Linked DNA regions of Homo sapiens: region 2 is linked to region 1. Evidence: fine-mapped expression QTL. A gene starts in region 1. The other region holds a variant in brackets. All regions are shown on one strand. Distances are from middle to middle.

What was found. PIP is the estimated chance that this variant, and not a neighbour inherited with it, causes the effect.
Region 2: its variant is fine-mapped to the expression of CRISPLD2 in whole blood (INTERVAL, PIP above 0.99).

What each region holds. Positions count from the first base shown.
Region 1 is chr16:84,817,582-84,822,581 of GRCh38, reverse strand. CRISPLD2 (cysteine rich secretory protein LCCL domain containing 2) reads right to left here and starts at 2,597. Exons shown (of 15, transcript NM_031476.4): 1 at 2,449-2,597. RefSeq lists a silencer at 2,635-2,824.
Region 2 is chr16:84,907,787-84,912,786 of GRCh38, reverse strand. CRISPLD2 (cysteine rich secretory protein LCCL domain containing 2) reads right to left here. Exons shown (of 15, transcript NM_031476.4): 15 at 3,279-5,000. Among named protein-coding and RNA genes, the nearest start is that of LINC02176, 18 kb to the left of the region's middle. RefSeq lists a silencer at 2,517-2,632. The variant G/C (reference allele first, on the strand shown) is at 2,634.

The DNA of each region.
Region 1 (5,000 bases):
AGTGCGTTTGCAAAAGAAGAAAAAAGAAAAAGAAAGAAAAAGCCTCCTGAGTCTGGCGCAGGCAGACATGCAGACACCTCCCACACACAGCAAATGACGCTGGTGACAGAGGAAAGAAAAGTTCCAGTTCCCACAGGCCAAAGAGGTCAGTGCCCTGCCTCCAAAAACTTTCTGACCTCCAAAGACGTCAGAGGGTCCTGCCTCCAAAAACTTTCAAATGCAACTTACAAAGGGCCACATACTTAATTTGTGGTCTTTTGAGGGATGAAGTGCAGAGGTTTTAAGAGACCTCGCAGTCTTCTTCCCTAGCTCAGGCCTTCCCAGTCAAACCAACTCTCCTCTCCAGGACAGAGGCAGGACTCAGAACCAGCACTGATTTGGGTCCTGGGACGGGGCTCTCAGTACCTGTCAGCAATGTTGAGCCCAAGCCCAGGGTCAGTTGATCCCCTCCCAGCCTCACCCCAACAGGGACCAGGGACCCAGATCCCTGCCAACGTTAAAAAAACTCCCACATGGCACAGAAAGCCTCAACTAGCAGCAAGCTCTGCTGGGACAGTCATGTGGCTGGTCATTAGATGGGCACCTTCCCCCAGAATCTGGGGCAGGGCCCAGCCTGGACGGCAGCTCTACCCCGCCCTGGCTGTGTCATGTTGGGCACACACCTTAATAATTCTGAGCCTCAACTAACTCCTTGTAAAAAGTGCCCAGCTAATAGAGCAGGCAGTGAGCTCATCCGTGGAAACCCTGGGCATGTCTGGTCTGTACTAAGCATCATGTAAATGTCAGCTGCTTGTATTATTACAAATGGCATTATTACTATTCCTACTCTCACATCTTAAGAAACTCTGAAAAAATCAAAATCACCCTCTTGGTTTCTCCTCCCTGGGTACATTGTCCAGTGGTTTTAACTGGAGCCCCTGTAAGACAAAACATCACCTGTGTGAAGGTCAGGTTCATGGGTGGAGTTGGCAGTGGGCAGGGAAGTGTCTTAAAGAAAGCAGGGTCAAGAGTGCAGATAGGACCCACCTGGGGGTGACAGCATTCCATACCAGCTGGGGGATCTTAGGCAAGCACTTCACCTTGCTGAGCCTCAGTTTCCTCAGCTGTGAAGTGGGCATCAAGAGGCCTACTCCCCGGGGTGTTGCAGCGATGACAATACAGGTAAACTGCGTGGCACAGACCGCGTGCCTGCCGCACAGGCAACACAGTCACACACCCACCCCTTCTCCTGAGTGGGAACAGCCAGATCAGGGGCAGAAGCAGAAAATCAGGTGCATACAACCCAAGGAGCCCTGGGACAGCCGACAGTCACAACTCATGGCCTCAGTCTACTGGAAAGGACCACGCCCCGGTCCTGTTCTGCAGGCTCTCCTCACTGTCAGACATCAGACCCTGGATGGGGAAAGCAGGCTCACCCCATTCTACCAGGGCAAGAGGTCCAAAGGCCCAAAGGGGAAACTCACAACCCCACTCTCGGTTGCAAGGCAAGCTAGGCATTTGCACGGGATGCTTCTCTCAGCCAGGGCAGCAACTCACATTTTGGCTGAGAGACGCCCAATTCAAGTTGGACTGCGATGAGCAGGCATCAGCGAAGTCCTCCCTGGCTTGTCCACCAGCCCAGCCTTAGCAAGGGAGGCTCTGGGTCTGCAGCACATGAGGGACTAGCCCTGGCTCTGTCCACGTGGGACGACCGATCTCCCCCACACTCCAGAGTGAGCCCTCCGCTTCCAGGGTAACTCTCCCCACGCAGGAGTTATGCAGGTGCCCGCTCTGGCTAAAGAAACCCAGAAACGTGTTCCCCCAGACTGCAGAACCCTGACATGGCCCCAAGTCTCTACACATCCATTTGAAGCTCTGGAGACAGACAGAGCTGGGTTCCAGCCCTGGCTCTGCCCGGACAACTTACTTCACCTCTCTGACCCTCAGCATCTTCATCTGAAATGTGGGAAGAAGGCTACCTTGCAAATGAAATCACAGAGGGGCGTGGCCCTCTAAACTGCAGCTGAATGCACATGCCACTAGATCACCCTGGTCCTCCAGACATGAGTAGGACACATTCTAATGCCTGCCATATCCATGCCATCAGCTTTCCAGTTATTGACACCCACTACGAACACAGGAATGCAACAAATGCTAGTGAACTGCACGAGGAAGGCAAGAGAGTAAACAGCCTCTAAGGAGCAGGATTCTGCGCTCAGATCGGCGTTGAATCCTGGGTCCTTGGAGTCCTGGCTGCGAGGTCCTGGACAAATGAGTTGTCCTCGCTGAGCCTCAGTTTCTCCATCTGCAAAAGGGCATGTCGCAAAGCTGTGTTCCGCTATGCAAGCAGAGCACTCGGTGTGGTGCCAGCACACAGTCAGCCCTGCGAGGTGGCATCTGTCCTAGTTATTCCAGCTTCTCGGGGGGGTAACAGTTTGCAAAAGGGAGAAGCATGGAAATCACACTTACCTCCGCAGGGCTCCAATCACCAGCTCGCTGGCGTCTCCCGCGTCCAGCAGACGCGGTAGCAGCGGCGACAGCGCGGGCACAGCAGGCACAGCGGGCACAGCGAGCAGACAGCTCAATAGGAGCAGCCGGAGACGCCCTGGGATGCGAGTGGGTGCCGGGGCTCAGCGTACCGCCTCTTGTAGGCTCCCCGGAGCCCGGAGGCCACGCCCCCAGATCGCTGGCGGCGCTGGTAGGACCGAGCATCACCGGCCCCGCCCCCGGCCCCGCCCCGCAGGCTCAGCGGGCTGAAGGAGGCGGGGGGCAGCTGAGGCGCGGGCGCCGGGTGGGCGAGGAAGGCGGGGCCGCTGGCCTCCAGGGCCGGCTAGGGACAAGGAGACGCTCAGCTCCCTCGCCACTGGCCACACAAGCATAGTTTTCATTGAGCGCTTACTATGCGCCTGGCGCGGTGCCAAGCGCTTCCCACAAGGGGCTTGCAAATTTACCAAACCCCAGCTCTCTGCAGCTCAACTGGAAAATAGGAATAAGGAGGCGACCTCCCAGGATTTTAGCAAATGAAATCCGCAAGGGCTGGGCGCTGTGAACTGTGGCGCGGTGCAGAGTACACAGTTACTGAGGTGACTCCCACCCTCTACACGTGCTCAGAAAACTTAGGCCCCCTCTTCCCAATTTGCAGACGAAGAAAGGGAGACTTGTTTCCGGATGGGGCCGCTAGCGCGGGGATCCAGGCTCCGCACTTTACCTTCAACGACCCTAGGACGCGTTCCCAGGAATCCAGGGAGGTGGAAATCACCTCATTTCACAGATCCAGTAGCTGAGGCTTGGAGAAGAGCGTGCCCCAAGTCCCGTAGCTAGGAGCAGTGCAGCATGTTCATATCTCTTTTGCCCGGAGGCATTTAGCATTTTTAACCTGTGCAGGTACATACGGAAATCAATTTAGAGCCAGACGAAATCACCTTTGAAACAGGTAAATCCACGTTCCTTAAGAGCTAAGGGACTGCCCCGTGCTCCCGCCTCAGTCACAAAATGTGGACGGGTATGCAGGCACTGCGCGGTAAGGTGCTGGGGCCCAAGGGCAGGAGGGGGCCTGTCCGCACTGCTCATCTCCGCACCAAGACACCGGAATTAGCTCCTCCAGCATTAACTCATTCCCCAAATACCCATCGAGTCGCTCTGTGCCGGGCCCTGTGCTATACAGCAGGCACAAACAAGACACCTCCGGGATCTCAGAGTCTGGGGCCCCCACGAGCTAGGGCACGTGGGAGAAACAAGGATGGGGAATGGGTGGAACAAGGACTATGGAAGGCTGCCTGCGTGACGTGGACTCAAACAGGGAAGGCTTGCCTAAGATTTTGGTGCGGCTCAAATGCAGATACAGAATAATGCAGACTGGCCGGGCGCGGTGGCTCACACCTGTAATCCCAGCACTGTGGGAGTTTGAGGCGGGCGGATCACCTGAGATCAGGAGTTCGAAACCATCCCGGCCAACATGGTGACACTGTCTCTACTAAAAATACAAAAATTAGCCGGGCATGGTGGTGCATGCCTGTAGTCCCAGCTACTTGGGAGGCTGAGGCAGGAGAATCGCTCGAACCTGAGAGGCAGAGGTTGCAGTGAGCTGAGATGGCGCCATTGCACTCTAGCCTAGGAGACAAGAACAAAACTCCATCTCAAAAAGATAATAATAATGCAGATGTTTTCTGTTATCTTTTTTTCCTCTTTTTGTTTTACTTTTCTCAGTCTTTGAAGCATCATTCTTCAGAGGCACTCAACTGGCATGCAGTCATCCAATAATTAAGCACCTACTATGTGCTGGGCTCTGTTTCAAGCACTGGAGGGCTCAGTAGTGAATAAGACTGTTCCAGAACAACAGTCCTTGGATTGACAAAAGACAAATCCAAGGGGAGAAGAGATCTGTGTTAGCAGATGCCTTTGGAGGCCTGGCACGATGGCTCAGGCCTGTAATCCCAGCACTTTGGGAGGCCCAGGCAGGTGGCTTGAGTTCAGGACCAGCCTGCAACATGATGAAATCCAGTTGCTACAAAAAGTAGCCAGCATGGTGGCATATGCCTGTGGTTCCAGCCACTCAGGAGGCTGAGGTGGGAGGATTGCCTGAGCCTGGGAGGTGGAGGTTGCAGTGAGCTGAAATCGAGCCACTGCATCCCAGCCTGGGTGACAGAGCAAGACCCTATTTCAAAACAAAACCAACCAACCAAACAAACAAACAACAACAAAACAGATGCCTCTGAGTACCTGACCCCAAAGCATTATACTGCCAAATCCTGCCACCCCCAACAACCCTCCAGGCTGGTCCTGTTATTAGCCTCATTTTTTCAATGATGGAACTGAGCACAGAGAGTGTAAGTCACTTCCCTGAGGCCACACAGCCTCTGAATAGAAGAGCCAGGATTTGAATTCACACTCTCACCCACGTGGCTGCCATTGCCTGTGACCATGAAACCTTGGGTGCAGGGGAATGGAATGAACTGGGTCCCTACTCCATCCCCACTCCAGCAAAGAGGAAGGAAAGCTACACGGAATCAGCCTCTACATAG
Region 2 (5,000 bases), 90 kb before region 1:
GCACACACCTGCGGTCCCAGCTACTCCAGAGGCTGAGGTGGGAGGATTGCTTGAGCTCGGGAGATTGAGGCTGCAGTGAGCCCTGATTGTGCCAGTGCACTCTAGCCTGGATGACAGCAGATTAGGACCCTGTCTCAAAAAAAAAAAAAGAAAAGAAAAGAAAACTGAATATACCTCATGACCTGAGATTCTCTTTCGCCATAAAGGACGTTACTGAGACAACTGGTAAAATCTGGACAAAGTATATAGATTAGATGATATATTGCACTAATGTTAATTTCCTGATTTAGAGAATTATATCATGGCTATGTAAGAGAATGTCCTCATTCTTAGGAAATATACACTCAAAGTATTGAGATAAAAGGAGTGTGATGCCTGCAATTCTCTCTTAAATAATTTAGAAATGAGATAGAGGAAGAAAATGACCAATGCAATCCAATGCTAGTGTCTGGGAATCTGAATGAAATGTATATGGGAATTCTTTGTACTGTTCTTGCAACTTTTCTGCCAGTCTGAAATTGTGTCAAAATAAAAAAGTTGAAAAACAAACGGGCGGGGTGTGGTGGCTTGTGCCTGTAATCCCAGCACTTTTAGGAGCTGAGACGGGAGAATCGCTTGAGCCCAGAAGTTCAAGACTAGCCCGGGCAACATGGTGAACCCCCGTCTCTACAAAAAGTACAAAAATGAGCTGGGCGTGGTGGCGTGCACCTGTGGTCCCAGCTACTCAGGAGGCTGAGGTGGGAGGATTGCTTGAGCCTGGGAGGCAGAGGTTGCAGCGAGCCTAGATTGCACCATTGCACTCCAGCCTGAGTGACAGAGTGAGACTGTCTCAAAACAAACAAACAAGAAGTCAGTTTAGAAACTCGAAAGCTGACATTGACCCCTTTGTTCCTGCTATTCAGCTGTGGCCTCCCTTCCCTGGGGTAGAAGGCAGGAGAGCAGTGGCTGAAGCAGTGAAGGCCTGGGAGACACTTTTAGAGGAGAAAACAGTGCAGGGAATGCCAAATGCATTGGTCAAAATAATGATATTAGGAGCAGTAACCATCTGTATGTCGCAGGACAAATGCCATACGCTGAGGATGCTGTGGGCAGAGCCGGAAGTGTTTCGCAAACTTCAGCCCTTATTATCCAATCTTGGTGATTTTTGCAATTGACCTGCACAATCTTAACTTACTCAACATTTTAAAATGGACATTTTAAAAGCCTGGTATTTCTTAAAGAGGAAAGCTATCCCCATCACGCATGGAAAAGGACCGCACTAGAGATGAGCCTGAGAGGAAGGCAGGCGCCTTCACCGGGGAGAGGAAAGGCCGGCCCCGTGCCCCCAAATTGCTCTGGGGCTTTGGTGCATTGAGGCACTCAGCGAGATGTGACTGCGCTTGGTGAAAAGGGGCTGCTTTGGGCTGATGCCTGGGAAGAAGGTGACCGTTACGAACTAAATTTCCCACCCTGAACACATAGGGTTTTCTTTGTTTGTTTTGTTTTTGAGATAAAGTCTCACTGTATTGCCCAGGCTGGAGTGCAGTGGCGCGATCTCGGCTCACCACAACCTCCTCCTCCTGGGTTCAAGCCATTCTCCTGCCTCAGCTTCCCAAGTAGCTGGGATTACAGGCGTGCACCACCACGCCTGGCTAATTTTTGTATTTGTAGTAGAGATGGGGTTTCACCATATTGGCCAGGCTGGTCTCGAACGCCTGACCTCAAGCAATTCACCCACCTCGGCCTCCCAAAGTGCTGAGATTACAGACACGAGCCACTGTGCCCGGCCCACAGGGCTTTGAAATGATTCCAGACACCTCCACAGGTTGCTACGTGGGTGACGCGTTTTGCTGCGCTAAGAACTTGGTGTGCCCCTTCTTCCCTGGAGAATGTGGCCTCACCCCTTATCGGACCCCGTCTGCGAGCTCCTGACCCTCACGACTGGACTTCCATACACATGCAAACCTGCCAGTGGGACGGACCCTTTGGGAGCTCTGGCTGTGGCCGGCTGCACCCTCGGCATCTTCTCCCAAAGCTGGGAGCTCCAGCTGTGACAGGTCACCCCGCCAGCCTTGGAGCTACTCTCAGAAGCCTCTGGCCAGCGCTGGAACTGCCTTCTAGGGACCTTACAGCGCTTCCAAGAACGGCTGGTAGAAGGTGCACCTCAAACTGAGGCCTGCTTCCATCCTAAGTGAGCAAGTAGGCCTTGATCATTCTGGAACTGACCCACTGTGGGGTTAATGGGCTTCGTCTGTCGAGTGTATTCTCTGTGAGGTTTGGTCTCATTCTCTCCCTGTTTAAGCACTGGGAACCTAAGGAAAAAACATCTTTGTGTAGCAATAAACTGTGTGATTTGTGAAATCGTACTTTGATCATTTCCTTATTGTAACCACACAAAACGATCCCTAACCCCCAATGTATTTCTTTCGTGTGTGTGTGTGTGTGTGTGTGTGTGTGTGTCTCGCTCTGTCACTCAGGCTGGAGTGCAGTGGTGTCATCTTGGCTCTCTGCAACCTCTGCCTCCCAGGGTCAAGCAATTCTCCTGCCTCAGCCTCCCAAGTAGCTGGGACTACATGCATGCGCCACCATGCCCGGCAAATTTTTGTATTTTTTTTGTAGAGATAAGGTTTCCCCATGTTGCCCAGACTGCTCTT[G/C]AACTCTTGGACTCAAGTGATCCTCCTGCCTCAGCTTCCCAAAGTGCTGGGATTACAGGCATGAGCCAGCCTGTGTATTTCAAGGTAGGGCCTTTAAGGAGGTAATTCAGGTTAAATGGGTCCTAAGGGTGGGGCCCAGACCCAATATGACCGGTGTCCTTATAAGAGAGAGAGAGAGACACCAGGAGTGTACATGCCCAGAGGAAAGGCCATGTGAGGACACGGCCAGGGGCAGCCACCTGCAAACCAAAGAGAGGCCGCAGAGGAAACCAACGCTGCTGGCACCCTGATCTTAGACTTCCAGCCTCCAGAACTGTGAGGAAGATATCTCTGTGGGTTAAGTCACCCAGTCTATGGTATTTTGTTAGGGCAGCCGGAGCTTAGACAGAATGGCCTTGAGCCCACCACCACTCAGAGTGTGATCTGGGGACTGGCAGCATTCGCATCACCAGGATCTTGGGAGAAATTCACAGTCCCTGGCCCCAACCCAGCCTTGCTGAGCCCGAAATTGCATTTTGGCAAGCTCCTCCCTCCTTCCCGCGGATGGGGTGGAGGTCTCCACCAGGCCCTGGCTGTCAGCATCTCTGTGTATATGAGACATCCTAGCAGAAGCAGCCAACACAAAACAGTCCAGAGCCTGAAAGATGGTTTTCAATGTTTTATTTCACAAATTGTTCAGATTTGTTCATAAAAGATATGTTACAGGAACATTTTAGAAATCAAACCAGTTCTACTGAAACAATTGCAACAACGTGGCCCCTGTTCATGCAAAGCACAAAAAACATTTACAATAAAACTTTGTACACAGGAAGTAGCAAAATACATCATTTTTCATAGAAAAAAGCACACACATAAACTGCGGGCTGAGTGAGCCTACAGACAATATGAGAAACCAGCACACGCTTTGGAATACGGTAGGGCAAAACTCCTAAGGAAGCCGAAAATGTTCATCCTGTGGGCAGGAGAGCCAGGAACGCCGTTGGCTTGGTACAAGATCTTTTTAAACACAGGGTAAGTGTTGGTAGCACGAGGGGCCTCTATTCCACACACAGGAGAGGTGGTGCTAGGGACAGGGCTTATCATTTATAGTCTTGTTTCCATTTTCTGAAGACAAATATTCCAGTTTCAAAATGTTTGTGGGGATGATAAAGACAGCCAGGTCCATGGCCGGGCGCAGTGGCTCATGCCTGTAATCCCAGCACTTCGGGAGGCCAAGGTGGGTGGATCACCTGAGGTAAGGAGTTCGAGACCAGCCTGGCCAACATAATGAAACCCCATCTCTACTAAAAATACAAAAATTAGCCGGGCATGGTAGCTCACGCCTGTAGTCCCAGGTACTTGGGAGGCTGATGCATGAGAATTGCTTGAACCCGGGAGGCGGCAGTTGCAATGAGCAGAGATCACGCCACTGCACTCTACCTTGGGCAACAGAGTGAAACTTGGTCTCGGGAAAAAAAAAAAAAAAAAAAAAAAGACAGCCAGGTCCTGCTCTGGGCAAGGACTTTCTATCCTGCTAGGAAGGCCCAGTGAAGGAGGCATTAAGGAACCCGGGGACTTTATTTTTAAATGATGGGGTCAACTCACACTGGAAGTTTCAAGTCTCCCTTGAGTGGGATGCTTTGGAAGCGAGCCCACTGGGATCGTCCTGGACCCTTCACTAATTCTGCAAACCCCACAGGGCGATCTAATTTATCTTGCAGACACAGACACAGCCACAAAAGTCCAGCAGCAGAGCACCCAGCACCCAGAAGTTTCCCAGATGTTTGGTGGTAACTGGACTCACGACCTGACAGGCTGACCGAATTCTTCCTCTCCGACATTTGGGGCTGAGGAGTCAGTACCTATGAATTACGACTAGACTACAATGCACAAAGCACGTAGTCCTGTGAATTTTAGCTCAGTCAAGCTAAGAGTTGAACTGCTTTTTACCAACTCCTTAAAGGGGTGGGTTTTTGTTTTGTTTTAAACCTATTTACCTTCAGATTCTGCATTTATTAGAAAGGCAATCAAAGAAAGAAGGCATCACCTAGGTGCCCAGGTAGAATTTCTTGTCCAGTCTACAGTATCTTAGTTTTTGACTTTCTGCTAGTTCTTTCACCTAAGAAATATTTTGAATCAAATTTGAAACTAGCATTCACCAAAGTGATCTATTGGCTGGCCCGGTGGTAGAGAGTGGAATTTTCACCTTCTGCAAAAAAATGCTATTTACAAAAGGGTACTTCATTTCACTGTGGGCTTTTGGTCTGGGCTCATGAAGCACTTTTATAGAGTGATGGCAGCCAGGGTGTACTACACTCCTTGGCGCCTCGGGAACGTTTGGCAAGAGTCGTTTCACGAAAACAGGAAAAGAGATCCTTCTAGTGTATT